Regions from separate parts of the Homo sapiens genome. Here region 1 is linked to region 2. Evidence: fine-mapped expression QTL. Tissue or cell type: whole blood. Region 2 holds a variant in brackets; the other region holds the start of a gene. All regions are shown on one strand. Distances are between the middles of the regions.

Region 1 (2,749 bases), 130 kb before region 2:
GGCCAAAATCGATATTTATTCTTTTGAATTATGCTTATATCTTTTTCCTGGTTAATACGCACGCGGTGGCACAATTTTGAAAACTACGTAACGTTATAGAACCACCACCCAGAAACGAATCCTGTTAACAAACTTTTTGTATTCAAACTTTTTCCACTGCATAGTTTTTGACAATGCTTTTTAGACAATCTTTCTTTTAGCAACCAGCACTTTCAAACAAAAATTACAGAGAATAGTAAGTTTTTTTCCCCTCCTCCGGCAGATTTGACCCAGAAATTGCTATGGGAAGAAAGTGTTAATTATATTAAAAAATAGTTTGACAGAAAGTATTTAAAAAGAGAAAGGGAGAACATCACGTCTTTATTTTGGTGAATTAGCAACAAAGAAAAAGATTAGCATGGACGGGTACTTTTCAAAAATATATTTTTTTTCCTCTGGCTCCCGCTAGGGTGGAGGAAGTTGTCTCTCTGTCAGAGACAGGGTGGAAGAGAGTGAAAGGACAAATGATTGAGAGGCTGCCCCCTCCCACTGGTGCAGGCGTGCGGGGGTCGGATGGGGGGCCGCGGAGGGGGGAGGTGGCCAGCAGGTGCCTGGGCTCCAGGCCCCTACCCCCACCCTCGTCCCCACCCTCACCCACACCCAGGGATTGGCCTCGCCCCCTGGCGGGCGAGCGGTAGGTGTCGAAGCACTGGGGTGGGGGGTGCAAACCCCGCGGGCAGCGGAAAAGAGGCCGTGGGGGGCCTCCCAGCGCTGGCAGACACCGTGAGGCTGGCAGCCGCCGGCACGCACACCTAGTCCGCAGTCCCGAGGAACATGTCCGCAGCCAGGGCGCGGAGCAGAGTCCCGGGCAGGAGAACCAAGGGAGGGCGTGTGCTGTGGCGGCGGCGGCAGCGGCAGCGGAGCCGCTAGTCCCCTCCCTCCTGGGGGAGCAGCTGCCGCCGCTGCCGCCGCCGCCACCACCATCAGCGCGCGGGGCCCGGCCAGAGCGAGCCGGGCGAGCGGCGCGCTAGGGGGAGGGCGGGGGCGGGGAGGGGGGTGGGCGAAGGGGGCGGGAGGGCGTGGGGGGAGGGTCTCGCTCTCCCGACTACCAGAGCCCGAGAGGGAGACCCTGGCGGCGGCGGCGGCGCCTGACACTCGGCGCCTCCTGCCGTGCTCCGGGGCGGCATGTCCGAGGCTGGCGGGGCCGGGCCGGGCGGCTGCGGGGCAGGAGCCGGGGCAGGGGCCGGGCCCGGGGCGCTGCCCCCGCAGCCTGCGGCGCTTCCGCCCGCGCCCCCGCAGGGCTCCCCCTGCGCCGCTGCCGCCGGGGGCTCGGGCGCCTGCGGTCCGGCGACGGCAGTGGCTGCAGCGGGCACGGCCGAAGGACCGGGAGGCGGTGGCTCGGCCCGAATCGCCGTGAAGAAAGCGCAACTACGCTCCGCTCCGCGGGCCAAGAAACTGGAGAAACTCGGAGTGTACTCCGCCTGCAAGGTACGCGCTCGCCGCTCTCGGACCGCGGATGGGTGCTAGGGGCCCAGCCCGCGGGACCCCCCTCCCCCTCCCGCTTCCACCTCCGCCTCCCGCCTCCTGCCTCTCGCCTCCCGCCTGGGGCCGCTGCACCGCGGAAGTGCTCTTGTCGCCCGCGCCCAATTAGCTTCTTCTTGGATAAGAGTCCTGCTGGGTTTGAAGAAGGGGGATCACTAAGACGGAGAGCCCTTCATTCCTTCCGCTTGAAAGGAGTAGCTTCGGCATCCGAGCTCCCGGGCTACCTTGGGGTTTTGTTGCTCTGTAGGAGCTCGCTGGAGTCACTTTCCCGGGAGTGGAGCGGTGCTCTCCATGTGGCGGGTGACCCAGGGGCAAGGAAAAATCTTTTGGGGGACTGAGTGGTCCCTTCTGCAATCGATCCCTTCCTGTGTCCCACTGGGAGGAACTGGGTGCAAGGAGTGGGGGTGGAGAAGACTCCCGGACTCCTGGCGCTTTGGGAAAGCGAAGGGGAGGAAAGCGCGGGGTGGGAAGGTGGGCAGAGTCCGAGGCGAGGGTCTTGTGGTGCCTGGCGCCCTCGGCTGGGGGCGGAGGCACTGCCGCGCGCGGTGACAGCCCTGTCATTATTGTATTATTACTTGTTTAGTTAAAACGCTGTCCCAGCTGCTCGAGGTGTAAACAGGATTTGGCAAAGTGACAGCCCAGCGCGGCGGGCGCTACTGCTCAGTTTGAGGACACCCATTTCTTGCTACCCACTCTCCATGCCAGTTTAGGCACCCTGTCACCTCCAGCTGCAGATCCAGATGTGGAGGCTGTGTTCCCGAGGTGGGAGGATTGCCCGAGGCCGCGGGGCAGGCTGGCCCTGCGCTGTCAGCAGCGGCTTTGTTTTGACAGGGTGACAGCTGAGGGGGGCGGGGACTTGGCCTTGTCAGCTCCTGCGGCCTGTGGCTGAGGCAGGGAAGAGACACACTCACACACACTCACACCTCCCTGTATTCTTCCTGCCTGCTGTAAAGAGGGTCAAGTTCCCAGATTCCAGATTCCCGATTGTCACAACCAAGCTGCAGTGACCACTTCTGAATTTTGACATAACTATAATTTATTCTACTAGAACATCTAGGTTATACTCTTCTTGGTACTTGCAGGAGCTTCTCAGTCACAATGGAATGTCTATGCTTGCTCTTTTTCCACACCATATGCTCAGGTTTATGTTAAGCACCTCTGTATCCTACACTGGTTCAATAAATATTTGTTGAGTGAATGTAGGATCTAGCCCAGTGCTCCTCAAACT
Region 2 (2,500 bases):
AAGAAAATATGTATACATACAATGAGATGTTACTCAACCTTAAAAAGGAATAAAATTTTGATACATGCTATAACATGGATGAACCTTGCGATTATTATGCTAACTAAGCCAGACACAAAGGACAAATATCCTATGATTCCATTTCTGTGAGGTACCTGGAACAGTCAAATTCATAGAGATAGAAAGTAAAAGTAGTGGTTACCAGAGGTTGGGAGAGAGGGGAGAAGAGAGAGTGATTGTTCAATGGGTATAGAGTTTTAGTTTGGGAAGAAGAAGTAGTTCTGGAAAAGGGTAGTGATGGTTGCACAATCATGTGAATGTACTTAATGCTACTGAACTTTACAAATAAAATGATCAAAATGGTCAGGTGTGGTGGCTCATGCCTGTAATCCTAGCACTTTGGGAGGTAAGATTGGACGATTGCTTGAGGCCAGGAGTTTAAGACTGGCCTAGGAAACATAGCCAGTCCCCATCTCTACCAAAAAAAAAAAAAAAAAAAAAAAAAAAAAAATTAGCCAGGTGCAGTGGTGCAAGCTTGTAGTCCTAGGTAAAGGGGATCCTTTGAACCCAGGAGTTTGAGGCTACAGTGAGTTATGATTGGCCACTGCACTGCAGCCTGGGTGACAGAGTGAGAATAAAAAAACAAAAATAAAATTTAAAAAGATCAAATGATAAATTCTATGTATATTTACCACCCCTACCAACACACAAAAAAATTGTGACTATACAATATACCCAGCATAAAGCTAAACAAATAAAGCAATGCAAAGAAGCCCATTCTATGACAAAGCTAGGAATATTCAGCAGTGGGGAAAGAAGACATTAGTCAATGAATTGTGCTGGGACAACTGGTTATCCTCATGGGAAAAAATAAAATTAGATCCCTAGTCCTCAAAATAAATGCCATATGGTTTAAAGACCTTAAAGTGAAAAACAAAAATGTACAAATTATAGACAAAATCTTAAGGAAGAAGGTGGTAGACGATACTAATATTTAAAACTCCTAAATATCAAAGGGAATTATAAGCAAGGTATAAAAAAGGGCAGAGATTGAGGAAAGATACTTAGAATACTTGTCAACAGAAAAAAAGGAATAGTGTGTAGACTATATAAAAAATCCATAGTTTTACATTCTATTAGAAAAGCAGGCAAAAGATATAATAATTCATAAAGGAAGAAATGAGAATAATAAACACTTGAATTCTCATAAATAAATCAATCAGATACAAGTTCATAGTAATTAAAACAAAGAAATAATTTCATACTTCCTGGCTTGGCTAATTTTAATGTCTAATAAAACTAAGTGATCGACAGTGTGTGGTGCTACTGGAACTTAGAAACTGCTATTAGGAGAGTGATATACTCCTTATAACAGAATTGGTGGAACCACTGTAGGAAGCAATTTCCTAACTAATAGTAAAGTTAAAGTTCA[A/G]TATACTCTACAACCAAGCAACTCCACTTCTAGGTATTAACTTTATAGAAAGTTAAGCACTTTAAGTGTACAAAGATGCAGAATATTCACTGCAGCACTAATTTGTAAATAATAAAGTGGAAATGAATTGTGTCTCAAAAGAAGAAATGAATAAGTCTGATTTATATAATAAACTGTACAATGATGAAAATAATCTACATCTGCCAACACGGATAAATCTCAAAAACAATATTGAGTTAAAAGTCAGTTGTAAAATGATGTGTACAATATTCCTATAAAATGTTAAGATATAAAACAATACTTAAAAGCCTATGAACAAATATGACAGCAAGACTATAGGAACACTAAAAATACAAACAATTCAACACTGATTTTAGGATAATGATTGACTTTGGGGATGAAGGGAAGGTAAGGATCAAAGCTAGATCAGAGTGTCAGACCAGAATGATCTTTAAGGCAAAAGTAAAGTACTCAATGGTCTAGAGCAGGAGTTGGCAAACTTTTTTGGTAAAGACCAGAAAGTAAATATTTTAGGATTGTAGGCCAAGAGGCAAACTCAAGAATATAATGTAGGTACTTTACTGGAGTTCAAAGTTAGTGCTTCTATCATTAAAATTGATTTCAAATGTTTGCTTTTTTTTTTTTTTTTCAACTATTTAAAAACGTAAAAACTATTCTTAGGTTGAAGACCATCCAGAAGCAGGTGGTGTGCTAGATTTGGCCCATAGTCCAACTGTACTTTCTGTGATGATGGAAATGTTCAATATTTCCTCAATTGTCTAATATGGTAACCACTAGCCACATATGGCTACTGATCATTTGAAAGGTGGTTACATGGACTGAGAAACTGTTTTTTTTTTTTTTTTGAGATGGAGTCTCGCTCTGTCACCCAGGCTGGAGTGCAGTGGCACCATCTCGGCTCACTGCAAGCTCCGCCTCCCGGGTTCACGCCGTTCTCCTGCCTCAGCCTCCCAAGTAGCTGGGACTACAGGCGCCTGGCTAATTTTTTCTATTTTTAGTAGAGACGGGGTTTCACCGTATTAGCCAGGATGGTCTCGATCTCCTTGA

Evidence for each region. PIP is the estimated chance that this variant, and not a neighbour inherited with it, causes the effect.
Region 1: KAT2B starts here. The variant in region 2 is fine-mapped to the expression of KAT2B in whole blood (TOPMed, PIP 0.98).

The regions. Positions count from the first base shown.
Region 1 is chr3:20,039,314-20,042,062 of GRCh38, forward strand. KAT2B (lysine acetyltransferase 2B) reads left to right here and starts at 1,133. Exons shown (of 18, transcript NM_003884.5): 1 at 1,133-1,467. The coding sequence starts at 1,165. RefSeq lists silencers at 395-1,034, 1,205-1,334, 1,535-1,594 and enhancers at 758-1,728, 2,445-2,634.
Region 2 is chr3:20,166,363-20,168,862 of GRCh38, forward strand. It overlaps a transcript of SGO1 not described here. Among named protein-coding and RNA genes, the nearest start is that of SGO1-AS1, 6.7 kb to the right of the region's middle. The variant A/G (reference allele first, on the strand shown) is at 1,433.